Linked DNA regions of Homo sapiens. The protein of the gene in region 4 interacts with the protein of the main gene of each other region in a biochemical or structural test. Each region holds a gene or a part of one and is shown on either strand. Other genes may lie near its edges.

What was found. Proteins that work in one complex are often made in the same cells at the same time.
Region 1: the proteins of EGLN1 (region 4) and DLG2 interact in a test that uses a peptide from one of them, tested with the Homo sapiens proteins (one large-scale study listed by IntAct).
Region 2: the proteins of EGLN1 (region 4) and LIN7A interact in a test that uses a peptide from one of them, tested with the Homo sapiens proteins (one large-scale study listed by IntAct).
Region 3: the proteins of EGLN1 (region 4) and CARD11 interact in a test that uses a peptide from one of them, tested with the Homo sapiens proteins (one large-scale study listed by IntAct).

Annotation. Positions count from the first base shown.
Region 1 is NC_000011.10:83,458,009-83,461,344, reverse strand, and holds part of DLG2 (disks large homolog 2), read left to right. Parts: intron 1-1,420; coding exon 1,421-1,527; 3' UTR 1,528-3,336. UniProt on the Homo sapiens protein: Required for perception of chronic pain through NMDA receptor signaling. Regulates surface expression of NMDA receptors in dorsal horn neurons of the spinal cord.
Region 2 is NC_000012.12:80,843,935-80,847,434, reverse strand, and holds part of LIN7A (protein lin-7 homolog A), read left to right. Parts: intron 1-1,495; coding exon 1,496-1,705; intron 1,706-3,500. UniProt on the Homo sapiens protein: Plays a role in establishing and maintaining the asymmetric distribution of channels and receptors at the plasma membrane of polarized cells.
Region 3 is NC_000007.14:2,939,368-2,942,867, forward strand, and holds part of CARD11 (caspase recruitment domain-containing protein 11), read right to left. Parts: intron 562-3,500; coding exon 382-561; intron 1-381. UniProt on the Homo sapiens protein: Adapter protein that plays a key role in adaptive immune response by transducing the activation of NF-kappa-B downstream of T-cell receptor (TCR) and B-cell receptor (BCR) engagement.
Region 4 is NC_000001.11:231,415,788-231,419,287, reverse strand, and holds part of EGLN1 (egl nine homolog 1), read left to right. Parts: intron 1-3,500. UniProt on the Homo sapiens protein: Cellular oxygen sensor that catalyzes, under normoxic conditions, the post-translational formation of 4-hydroxyproline in hypoxia-inducible factor (HIF) alpha proteins.

The DNA.
Region 1 (3,336 bases), on a different chromosome or scaffold from region 4:
CCTTACACCTGGTTCCCGGAGGTTTAAAAACAAGAACTTTCGAGCTGGGCTTATGCCTCTAATCCCAGCACTTTGGGAGGCTGAGGTGGGTGGATCACCTGAGGTCAGGAGTTCGAGACCAGCCTGGCCAACATAGTGAAACCCCCGTCTCTACTAAAAATACAAAAAATTAGCTGGGTGTGGTGGCAGGCACCTGTAATCCCAGCTACTAGGGAGGCTGAGACAGGAGAATCACTTGAACCCAGGAGGTGGAGGTCGCAGTGAGCCGAGATCGTGCTACTGCACTCCAGCCTGGGCAACAAGGGTGAAATTCTGTCTCAAAAAAAAAAAAAAAAAAAAAAAAAACCCAAGAACTTTCTTCCTGGATTACCATATGTGAAGTTAGATGTTTTATTTTTTACCTTATTCAGAATATAGAAAGTGTCAGTGCCTTAGCAGTTTGTAAATATCTTGAATCAGGTAATATTAAGTAATCTTTCTGTCAGTAACCAAGATACGAGCTGTGTTTCATCCTAAAAGAACATCCAGGTAGGAGAAACAAAAGTGTACATTTTGACAGTGGTTTATATTTTGTATACAATACAATAATATATTCTGAGGATTGTTTTTAAATATCTAAATCATCTTTCAGTAGTAATTTATTTTTAAGACCTAGTGTCATATGGATAATACTGATGTGTTTTGGAAATCTTTCTACAAGATAACTTTTGTTCAAATGAGACAATAAAATGTACTTAAATCTACTCCAAGTGACTTAGTGTTTTAGGAGATACACAACTGAGCAGTTTGTTTATATTTCTTCCTGTTTATGTTTCTTATAAATAGTGGACTTATGGTATTCTCAATATGAATAGCTCTGTATGGTAAAAATCTCAAGTTACCAGAGATTTGGGGAATTAATGGGTTTTCCTATTAAGGGCTTTGAGGGTTGGGAGGCTAACTAAACTTCCCTCTAAAATCTTCATTATTTCCTCGGTGTCTACAATATCTGAATTTCTGCTGCTGCCAAAATAAGTAAATATACAGACTGTAAGGCCAGTTTTCTTTTCTAAATAGGGAGCTCTCAGTCTGAAAATTGATCATTGCCCAGCTCAGTGCCTGGCTCAGAGTAGGCACCCATAAAATATTGGTTAAATAGATGAGTGATAAATTGTCCAGTACTACAGACAGACATGTAGAAAGTGCAAAGACTGTGAATCATTTGTTACTGATCCAGGATATCCATTGAAAGCATTTCTTAAAATCATGAATGTAACTTTGCTTATATGAATTTTCTGCTTCTTCTTACTAATGAAAAATGATATGAAGCTTCCTGATGAGTCATCTGCTACTGATTTGAGCCTCCAATGTGTAAGTGATGATTGTTCTTCACCATCCAGGAAATTATTTCTAATTCTGGGTGTGTTTGCTTTTGTTACAGCTATTGTCCAAGGAGATACTTTAGAAGATATATATAACCAATGCAAGCTTGTTATTGAAGAGCAATCTGGGCCTTTCATCTGGATTCCCTCAAAGGAAAAGTTATAAATTAGCTACTGCGCCTCTGACAACGACAGAAGAGCATTTAGAAGAACAAAATATATATAACATACTACTTGGAGGCTTTTATGTTTTTGTTGCATTTATGTTTTTGCAGTCAATGTGAATTCTTACGAATGTACAACACAAACTGTATGAAGCCATGAAGGAAACAGAGGGGCCAAAGGGTGGGACAGAAAAGACATTGCAGTATGAAGGAAGGCTTTGGTTTGCTCAAAGTGCCAGGTGTAGGGATGAACCTCTGACGGGCTTTCTGCCCAAGAGATGAGATGAGAGCCTCCTCACCCCAGCAGATGTCCAGAGCTGATTTAGCTGCAGAGCTCTCTGTGTCTTTTGCTTTAAAGAAAAATTGCCAGCACTCGAACCTCATCAGCCTTCCCATTACCCACATCTGTAATTGGTACACTTTGAATTTTATAACTATGCACATCTTTTGATTTCTTAACAAGCAAATGAAAGAAAGAAGGAAAAAAGAAAGGAATCCCTTTGGAGATGACATACTATCAGGGAAGGATAAGTGTGTAGTTTTTTGACTGGCATCTGCAAAGACAAGAATTTCATAAAATTTGCAAGTGTATGGAGGACTAACCTCACTGACAGGAGGGGATTCCACCTGGGATTAGCTTTATGATTGTTGATTGCCTATTTTGCCATTTATAAACTGAAAGAAGGCACTAAAGATGAGAATAATTTATACAATAAAAATATATTAAATGTATAGAAACAAATTTCTATAGGTTAAAAAAGTTTTGTGAAATATTTTGTAAAGACTAATATTGAAAGACTAAATGTATGCAACATCAGCAGATGATCAAATTCAAGACCTGAAAGTTGCACTCTCCCTTTTGTTGCCAATGATCTGTTAAGAGCATCTGAGTTCCTTTTAAGTCTGACAAAGACTTCTTCCTCACTTACCTCCCTTCCACATTAGTGATACACTCTCATGCAGCACATCCCTTAATGAGTTGCCCTCATGGATATTTTTGGAAGACATTTGGTTAATGCATTTTTTTATGCTGATGGCTTTTCAGAGACAAACTTATGCAAATGATCTAAAGGGAAGTTTTTGCTTTCCTCTAGTTAAATAACCTGAGCCTGCCATGCAAATAGTTGAATAACTTTGTTCCTAGTTACTGACATACAATTCTTAAAGGACCATTTAGCATTTTGGCCAACAATGAGTAATTAGGATTAGTACCTTTTTGTTTTACAGAGTAACTGAGAGTTTTGTAACATCCAGAGATGGTACTAGAGCCAATGAGAGATCTGTTCCTAGATGCACTATTTCTTTGAGGAAGAGAGAGAAGAGAAGTGTCTGGTTGGGGGTGAGGGGGTGCAGACTTTTTTGTTTCTATGTACAGAGCAAAGAGATAGAGTCACAAGGAAAGACAATTAATGACTTTGAGCTCAACCAACTGAACTGCCTTTCTTGGAGCTGCACCTGGACCAAGTTTATTTTTTAACAATTATAATAACGATGATTTAAAAAAAGAAACCTCCCAAAGCCTATAAACTGAACTAGAAGAGTTGGTTTCCCACTTTAGAGTGGATGGCGACATCAGCATTGCTTTTGCCCATGGTGTTTGGGGAGAGACTTTTCAGTGATAATAACCACTCTACTCTGGGTTCTGTGCATGCCCAGACTAAGCCCCATCGCCTTATTTCTGGGGTACATCCAGACCTGGCAGGGATTCTGCCACACTGTGCAGCAAACCAGCATGTAGGCTGGGTAGGAGAGCAAGAGATAGAGCCATCAGAGTGATGGGGCTTCTTCACAGTAAGAACATCGGAGCTTAG
Region 2 (3,500 bases), on a different chromosome or scaffold from region 4:
TTTTAGTTTTTACTCTGTAACTGAACACTGTAGATTTGTAAGGTTTTTTTGTTTTGTTTTGTTTTGTTTAAACTCAGGGAAAAAAAGAGGGTGTTATTATCATCATGTCATGCTTTGCTTGTACTGAAGTGGAACACACACAGAAAAATGATCCCTACGTGGTTTAATTAAGGGGAAAGTGAATTGTGTAGTGTTTTACCATTCTCATTTCTTATTCATGTAGAACAGCAGGATAGCAGCATAATGTTGCAATAGCACAGTATTTTCTGGTTGTTTCTGGGCTGTCTGCATTGCATCCATGTCAGCCATTAAAATCTATGCATGACAATGAGGTTTGCATGAGCAAATGCATGTAGCTAAAAACAAGCCATTGTTTTCATGTCATTCACTATCTTTCACTAAATGCAGACAGTAGCATAATGCTAAATTGATGTGATAATGCTGTGTGTGGAAAAGAAGGTACAGTCGTTGGGAATAAATATTTTCACAGTGTTGAGTAAGTCACTTTATAGCAGGCATCTAATCAACTGTGATCAAGGTGAATTAATAAAAGTGAAAAATAAGCAGGCACAGAATCATTTCTTGATAGAAACTACCTAAGTGCTGTTATTTTATTTCTATGGGGTTAGTGGGAACTAATGGTAAGTTGTTTTCTTGAACTCATTTAATGAAATCAGTACATGAATTTTAAAACAAATTATGTCCATATTAAATGATGTTTTGTATATCTAGGTATAAAATCATTGACTTCATATTGCCTATTTTGTTATAATAATTGAAATATTAATGTATAATATAGGAAGAAAAATCCTGTTCCAGATAAGATTTCTCAGTATGGAATAATAATATGGTATATTGGTATAAGCTAACAATAATCTGTTTGAATCTATTATTTTATTTTAGTTTTCATTCTCTTTAAGGCATCCTTAATTTTTTAAAAAAGTTAAATTTGCTAAGCTTTTGGGTTGGCAATAGCAAGATTACATATGTATTCAAAAGTATGTATACATACAAGTGCTCTTCAATTTATTAAAAAAATACTTATGAACTTTTATGTGCAAGCACCAGATTAGACTCTGTGTCATACAAAAGAGTGCAAGACGCCATCTCTGCTCTTAAGGTGCTCATAGTCAACACATGTATAAAATAATTATAATAGTAGATAGTACATATAACAAAGTTATTTGGACTCCAGGAATAGGAAGAATTGCAGCTAACCAAGGTAACTGGAAAGGATTTTTATGAAGACAGGAAAATTCTGTCATAACAGATAAGCCCTAGGAAGCTGGAAATAGATGAGTGGGACTTTACCAAAGAAAGAAATCCTAGATGGCATCTAAATGAAGAAAGTCCTCTGCTTTTTGTGTTCTTTCTTTCACAGGAGAATACTATAAAAATATGAGAAGTTGCCTGAGCTACCCACTGCAAAGCATATGATTAGCCTTTATTTCCCTCATTTTATTACCAAAAGACCATCTTTTTTTTTTTTTTTCAGGCAACAGTTGCAGCTTTTGCAGCTAGTGAAGGCCACTCCCACCCTCGAGTAGTTGAACTGCCAAAGACTGATGAAGGCCTTGGTTTTAATGTGATGGGAGGAAAGGAGCAAAATTCCCCCATTTATATCTCTCGCATAATTCCTGGAGGGGTGGCTGAAAGACACGGAGGCCTCAAAAGAGGAGACCAGCTGCTATCAGTGAACGGAGTGGTATGTTTATAAAATAACCAGAGATTTTCTCCTTAAGCACATTCTTTTTTTTTGCCCCCTGCTATTACTGAAGTCAACGTTGAAAACCTAGAATAAATATTCATTTTATGTCTAACCAGCTTTCTAAGCATTGATGGATATTAAACCTATAAAAGCTGCAATCTAATTTTTATGTCTCATTTCATTATGTTCAGTTATGATAAATATCAGTGAGTTGAAAAAACATCCCAGGAAATTAATCCAACTAGCTGACTTTCTTCCCATAATACTCCAAGTAACATTTACAAGAATACAGTAATTTCAAGATACTTTTTATCCTAAGTTACTATAAGCAAATACATACATTTTAAGAATAAAGATATAGCTCCTTACTTTGTAATGTGTGTGGGTTTTTCATTTTAATTACAGAGGAAGGGTAATTTTAATGTTTATGTAATAATAACACATATGAAAAAGGCTAATGCACTCAAAATTTTTTTTTTTTTTTTTTTTTGAGATGGAATCTCACACTGTCCCCCAGGCTGGAGTGCAGTGGTGCCATCTCAGCTCACTGCAAGCTCCGCCTCCCGGGTTCACACCATTCTGCTGCCTCAGCCTCCCAAGTAGCTGGGACTACAGGCGCCCGCCACCAAGCCCGGTTAATTTTTGTATTTTTAGTAGAGATGAGGTTTCACCATGTTAGCCAGGATTGTCTCAATCTCCTGATCTCGTGATCCGCCTGCCTCGGCCTCCCAAAGTGCTGGGATTACAGGCGTGAACCATCGCGCCCGGCCTCAAAATTCTTGAAGCCAGATCTACAGCTATAGTATAATAAAAACATATTAGCCTTCCTCCAAAAAAGAGTTTGATTAAATTACCTATTCATAATATATGCTTTCGTTTTTAAATGAAATTAGAGTAAATTAAAATATGTAACATTTTAAAGTAAAAGTATGAATATACATTTTCTCATAACATATTCTCTGGATGCCACCACTTCCACTTGTAATAAGGAGTTGCTAAAGAAATTGTTTCCTATGAAACAAACATTTTCTCCCTATAACATCCACTTATATTAAACATAAATTACCTAAAAGCATACATTTCAGAAATATAAACAGAAACTTATCAATGTTACCTTTCGATTAACCTAAGATCTTTTTTCTAAGAACTTAAGGATTTTAATATATAAACTCGATTTCAGTTATTTGTGGCCAGATTGATTTATGCTTGGGACACAATATCCAAAATCAAATGTAATTGGAACATGATATTTTATTGGTAACTGTAGAATGAAATTCTTCTGTATTCATATCTTGAATTTTATTCATTTGTTTCTTATTTTTAGACTGACTAGTAGTTTCATAGAACCCAAAACTATTCCTTCAACTCTGCTGTCCTCTAATGTATATCAAAATTCTCAACCCATGAATATTTTCTATCACTTCAGCATTCCAATTACTACTTACTTTTTTCTATGTAATAATGTTTTGAGATAAGCTTTTTATTGACCTTTAGATAACTGTGACTTTTTCAAAGCATGTTTCAAGTGATAATTTCAGAGTCTAACTTTCTGGTAGAGGACTCTAGAGCTAGGTCACACAATTGCGTCACATAGAGGCTTATGCCCCAGAGTATGAACTTGCAATTTCTCTGAATATATTATATAAATCAAATAAGGTATAGATTTAAAAACAGTATGAAAAGTTTAAAAAATTTCAAAGTATATTAACAGTAATTATAATTGTGTAAAGTAAGAATATATATATATATAATAAATTTAATACGTGGTTGACTTTGAGCTTTCTTATAAGGG
Region 3 (3,500 bases), on a different chromosome or scaffold from region 4:
TTTGAGGTTGGAACAAGAGGCACGGAGCTTACAGTTGAGTTTCTTGGAATCTTTAAGGGCACGTAGGTTTCCTAGATGTCCTTGTCTCTTCCCACAGTGCCCAGGGCATTGATTTCCACGTGGTTGGTGATTTTCCTGGAGTGCTTCAAATAAGCACATGTTTTCCCAAGTATGATATCCTATCTCTGACAAATGGGTGGTGGGGGTCACCGCTTTACAGAGGAGGAGACAAAGGTGCCCAAGGATGGCACGCATGCCTGTGATCCTGCAGTCAGCATGGGTGAGGCTTGGGGACTCACACCCTGGCAGGTTCATCGTTTCCCCCAACCCCAAGCCCTCACCCTCCCACTGCCCGCGCTGGCCCCGCCCCCAGGCCCTCACCTGGATGATGGACTGCAGCTCCTGGTTTTTGGTCTTCAGCATTTCATTCTCCCGCTCCAGTTCCAGAACCTGCTCCTTCTTGGGCCGATTTTCAATGTCATTCTTCAGTTTTAGAGACTGATTTCTCTCCAGCTTACATTCCTCCTCCATCTTATTCAACCGGTGCTTTAGCTGATCGATCTGAAATACCCCAAGGGTGCCCAGGGGAGAAGGCAGGTGGCAAGAAACACTCAGAAAAGGCAACGCTTCCCCCGATCCCACTGGGCTGGCAGCATAACCTGAGTTATGCCCCTCTCTCCTTCTTCCACGGGCAGAGAAGGGCTCCAAGAAACCTTCTCCAGTAAAACAAACTGTCATCACCCTGTTGATGGAGAGTTCCTGATTAGTCTATTTAGAATAGCTCCAAAGGGGCTACAGGCCTCAGAGAAAATTCCCTCAACCTTTGTCAGGTGGGACAGGTTATGGATTTTGGGATAAAAGAGATCCAAGTTGGTGTTTCCCACTTCAACGCCCTTCTCTGATGGGTTTCAAATTCTGATCCTCGGAACTCAAGGATTCCCCTGAGGAATCCAGGGGTTACCCAGGGGGAAGGAGGAGATGGTTGACAAGTTGGGGTTCTGGGCATCCACACTGACTTCACATCCCAGAACAGCTCTGCTTGTGTGGTTTGTTCTTCTGGGTTTCACACAAGATTTTATTTGGATAAATAGCACTGTTGCTAAAAAGGAAGAGGAAGAGGAGGAGGAAGAGGAAAAAGAAGAAAAAACAGGAGAAGGAGGAGAAGAAGAAAAGTAGAGGAAGAAGAAGAGGAAGGGGAAGAAGAGAAAAGAGAAGAAGAGGAAGAGAAAGAAGAAGAGGAAGAGGAGGAATGAGAAGGAGAAGGAGAGGAGGAGGAAGAAGAGGAAAAAGAGGAAGAAGAGGAGGGGGAGAAGAAGGAAGAGGAGGAGGAGAGGAGGAGGAGGAAGGAGGAGAGGAAGAGGAAGAGAAAGGGGAAGAAGGAGAAGGAGAAGAAGAAAGAAGAAGAAGGAAGAGGAGGAGGAGAAGAAAGAAGAATAATAGGAAGAAGGAGGAGAAGAAGGAGGAGGAGGAGAGGAAGAGGAGGAGGAGGAGAAGGAGAAGGAAAAGGAGAAGGAGAAGAAGACAGCCTGAAATTCACTGAATTGTAATTTCACAGGATCTCCACCCTAAAGAACCTCCCTAGACTTAGTGGCAGAAAGAGTAGCTTCCTGGAGGAGGCAGCTATTGCATCTGGAAATGAGACAAGTGGAGATGTGCTGATTTTCACACTCAAGAGTTTAGTGTCAGGAACTGGGACCAGCAGAAGACTTCTTCAACCTGTGAGACTAACCTGTGTTCCTCCCCAAACACATCGGCTTTGCTAAAGTATCCCAAACAAGAAGGTTGCATTCGAGGGCTATAAAGAAAGGAGGCACCAAAGGGGAGAGTGTCATTTTTCAAATCTAGTCTTGGAAGGAGAATCATCTCAAGGAATCTGGCAGGTAGAGAGCAGTGGCTTTAGCAAGAAAAGACCAGCTCCTGCACCCCAGTGATTAACCTGAGACGATGAAGAAAGGGGCGTGCAGGAAGCAGCCCGAGGCCAAGAAAACCAGCCAGGGACTCTGCTGGCCAGATGTTCTTCCAAATTCTACTTACACTTTCTCACTATTAATGTATCTCCAGGGAAACATAACACAGGAGGAAGTTCCGGGAGAGAAACTTGTAAGTCTCTGCCACAGGGTAACTTCCCCAAATCCTAGGTAAAAACAGCATAGAAATCTCTCCTGCTCATGCAAAAAAAAAAAAAAAAAAAAAAAGCTCCTCAGCATCTTCAAAGCTTAACCCAAGTGTCCTGTGGTAAGTCCCGGGTCCCACACGAGCAGGCATGGGGCGCTAGCATTGTGGGGTGCTTACAGGGTCAGCCGCTCCGCCAAAGACCTACGGTTCAGTATCCCAGCAATCCTAGGGCACACGTATTACTTTCATTATTGACATCTGCAAATGAGGAAACTGAGGCCAATAGCTAAGTAAGTCGTAAAGCATAAAGCCAGAATTTGAACTCAAAGCTACAGGACTTACAAAGCTCATGCTTCTAACCAAAACACTATTGCCTGCTATGCCACTGACTCAATTCACCTGAATTCCCGGTGGATTGTTTACGGATCTGTCTGCTTCACTAAATTGTAAGTGACCTGAGCACAGCTCACGTTATTTATCCCCATGTCTCCCACAGTGCTTAGCACAGTGCCTCACACGTGGCAGGTGCTTAATAAATATTCTGTGAGTCTATTTTCCATCCAGCAGCCAGAGTGATCCTTCTCAGACATAAATCAATTGTCACTCTTCAGCTCTCAATCCTTCAGAGGGTTCTCATCACAACTAGAATAAATCCCAAAGTTCTTACCATGCCCCCATGATCTGGACCCCGCCATCCCTTCCACTCCCTTCTGCACCATTTGTTTATTTGGCTCTGGCCCCACTGACTCTCCTGCCATTTCTTTTCTCTTTCATTTGTTTCTCTTCCTTCCTTCCTTCCTCCCTCCCTCTTCCTCCCTCCCTCCCTCCCTCTTCCTTCCTCCCTCTTCCTTCCTTCCTCCCTCCCTCCCCTTCCTTACTCCCTCCCTCTTCCTTCCTTCCTCCCTCCCTTCCTCCCTTTCCTTCCTTCCTCCCTTCCTTTCTTCCTTCCTTCCTTCCCTCCCTCCCTTCCTGTCTTTTTCCTTCCTTTTTCTTTCTCTTTCTCTCTCTCTCCCTTCCTTCCTTCCTTCCTTCCTTCTAGTTCTTTCTTTTGACAGGCATGGCTCACTGCAGCCTCGACCTCCCAGGCTCAGGTAATCGTCCTGCCTTATCACCCCTAGTAGCTGGGACTACAGGTGCATACCACCATGCCTGGCTTATTTTTGTAGAGATGGGGTTTTGCCATGTTGCCCATGCTGGTCTCAAACTCCTGGACTGAAGCAATCCTCCCGCCTTGGCCTCCCCAAATGCTGGGATTACAGGTGTGGGCCATCAAGCTCAGCCTTCCTGCTGTTTCTTCAAAAACAAAAACAAAAACAAAAACAAAATGCCCCCTACTTATGGGCTTTGCGAGTGCTTTCCCCTGAGACTTGCATGGTTGGCTCCTT
Region 4 (3,500 bases):
TAGAGCAAATGCTTCTCATAGAGATGCTATTAGGAAATAGGTACCTCCTTCCTCAAGAGTTCTAGTTGTTGGGGTTTTAAGTCACGTAACTGTACATATTAGCAGGTAATAAGGGACAGGATGAAGGAGGGATGACCTTTAAACTCTTTGGATTTGATCTGCTTATATTAATTTTAGGGACGCAACTTCAGGATCTATAAATGATATTCAGGAATTCCTTTCATTGTACTTCTTGGCTGAAAGAGGTTTTGGTAATCGTGTTTGAACATGTAATTTATTCCTAAAAAACAAGGGTGTTTGCTTTGTGGAAATGAGAAGGCAATCAAAATAACCACCCACCGTATATTGAGCAACCAACCACAGTGTGTTAGGCATCATATTAGGATCAATACAGATACAATCAGAGTATTTTTTTTTTTTTTTTTGGAGACAGGGTCTTGCTTTGTTGCCCTGGCTGGAGTACAAGGGTGTAAGCATGGCCCACTGCAGCTTCCACCTCCTGGACTCAAGCTATCCTGCCATCTCAGCTTCCGAGTAGCTGGGACTGTAGGCACACACCACCATACTTGGCCAAATGAAAAAAAATTTTTTTTGTAGAGTCAGGGTCTTGCTGATCATTTGATCTCGAACTCCTCGGCTCAGGGGATCCTCCTGCCTTGTCCTCCCAAAGTACTGTGGTTACAGACTTGAACCACCTCACCTGGCCACAATAATCTTAATTCTGTGAAGTGAGTAGTGTTATTCCTAATTTACATTTGAGGGATTTTCAGCTCAGACTTGGCAGAGGTCTACCACTTACTATAACCCTGGCTGGTGTTCAAACTTAAGTCATTCAGATATCAAACCCATGCTCTTTTTTAACTACGCTAGTTATAGGTAGAACATTAAATGAGATGTAGATTATTTAGCACACTGCTGGAACTGCAATTTGATACATATATTTTGTTGAAAGTGGGTGAATAGCACTAGCTTTATATGTGAGTAATCATACTCTATGGTTGGGCTGTGTAAAACTTTTTATTAGGTGACTGTACAATGTTTATTTCAGATAGTGGCTTAAAAGCCACTTTTGTATTTATCCACCTGAATTATGCGCCTGTCAGTATACTGTTAACAGATGTCAGAATATGGTTTTTTTATGTGATTGCAGAGGGAGACTTCAATTCAGAATTTTATCCTTCATAACATTATAGTGATTTTAAAAGTTATATGCAGCAAATGTGTAGTATTTTTCTCATTTCAACTTTCACAGCAGTAGGCAGGTGGTTGTATCCCTTTTTTTATAGATTAGAAAAGTGGGACTCAGGAAAAGTTAGTTCACTTGTTGGAAATTCTGCAGCATATTAGGACTTAAATTCAGGTTTTCTGACTAAGAATCTGATGTTCTTTTTTATTTACATCATGTATATTGCATGCTCTTTATGTCAGGGCATGGTAATCAGATGATACATGATAGTCTGTGGCCCATTCAGTGTAGGCTTTGTTTTCCCCTGAATTTCTACTTCAAACATGCTTATCTGGCCGCTGTTTATGCAACTACTTTAAAAAAGGAACCATAAGGGAAAAATGAAGTCATACAGGAGAAAAACAGAAATGTAATTGTAGCCACTGATACAACCAAGCTCCTGTTTCCACTTTCTCTGGTCTTTTTGGGATTTTCTCCTTTTTGCCGTTACCCTGCCCTTTGATCCTATGTCCTTGCTTATGCTTGTTTTCATCAAGAAGAGTCTCAATGATATGCAGTAGAAAGAAACCATGGTCTGCTGTTTTGTGAAGAGTAGTGTGCCTTGACTTGGGGGTACAGGAGGAAGAGGAATGCAGAGGAGTGAGGATCATGGGAAAATGTTGAACTTTTCTGTTGGAGTTTCTTCGCCACTATGAAGGAAAACATTTTCCCATTAAAATAGAAATACTAGAATCATATACATAACATTTTTGGAATTTAATCCAAAACTTCATCTGTTCCGTTAAAACATACATAAAGAAAAGGAGTAATAAAATAGGTTGGGACTAATAAGCAGCAGATTATATTACTAAGATTTTTCACTATTACTGTAGTTAATTAGTTAGGTCTGGCTGATTATGGCTTTTAGAGCAAAGAATAGGATGAGGAAAATGCAGCTGTTTTATTATCACTAACAGAGATGTGGTGAACAATCCTCTTAGATGTTAAAAACGAAACTGACCCAGGAAGAGAGCCCTCATCAGTACCAGACCATGCTGGCATCCTGATCTCAGACTTTCAGCTTGTAGAACTGTGAGAAAATAAACTTATGTTATTTAAACCTAAATACATAAGTACACCTTTATCTCCTTTTTCCATTCTCTTTGTATGCTTGGGATCCAGGATACACAAATTGAAGTTACTTGTTTAATGATTTTATAACTATGTCAGAATTTAAGTTAAAAGTGAGTTACTCTGTATGTAGAAAGGCTGAAAATAGTACAACTGCAGTAATTCTGTCAGCTATAAGGGACGTGTGGACTGAGAGGGTAGTCTTAATAGATTGTGATCAACTATATGTGAAAACATTTTGTGTAGTGAGTTGATGTGTAGTTTACATGTAAACTAACTCCTTTAGTTCGAAAGGAATTTTATTTTACGTTAAAAGATTATTTTAGGCTGGGCTTTAGTGGCTCACGCCTATAATCCCAGCATTTTGAGGGGCTGAGGCAGGAGGATCGCTTGAGCCCAGGAGTTCAAGACTGGCTTGGGCAAATGGTGAGACTTTGTCTCTAAAAAAATTAAAAAATTAGCCAGGCATGGTGGTGCGAGCCCATGGTCTCAGGTGGGATGATTGCTTGAGCCCAGGTGATAGAACAAAACCCTATCTCAAAAAAAAAAAAAAAATTTTTTTTTTGTATGTATGTAACTCTTTACTTATCTACTACCTAATAATCCACAAAAATACCCACAAATCCTTAATTACGTGGAGGAGGAGGAGATGATAATAGAGATCATTTTAACTTTGAAAGATAATGGATTCCGGGCCAGATGTGGTAACTCACCCCTGTAATTCCCAACACTCTGGGAGGCTGAGGTGGGACGATAGCTTGAGTCCAGGAATTCAAGACCAGCCTGGGCAACATGGCAATACCTCATCTCTATTAAAAAAAAAATTATTAAGAAAGAAAGGGGCCAGGTGCGGTGGCTCACGCCTGTTACCCCAGCACTTTGGGAGGCTGAGGCGGGTGGATCACAAGGTCGAGGGATTGAGACCATCCTGGCCAACCAACATGGTGAAACCCTGTCTTTACTAAAAATACAAAAATAAGCTGGGTGTAGTGTTGCATGCCTTTTAGTCCCAGCTACTTGGGAGGCTGAGGTAGGAGAATCGCTTGAACCCGGCAGGCAGAGATTGCAGTGAGCCGGGATTGTGCCACTGCACTCCAGCCCGGGCGACAGAGCGAGACTCCGTCTCAAAAAAAAAAAAAAGAAAGATAATGGATTTGGTTCTGCCATTAGATCTGGGTTGGATCCTGGGTCTGCTATGGTTTCT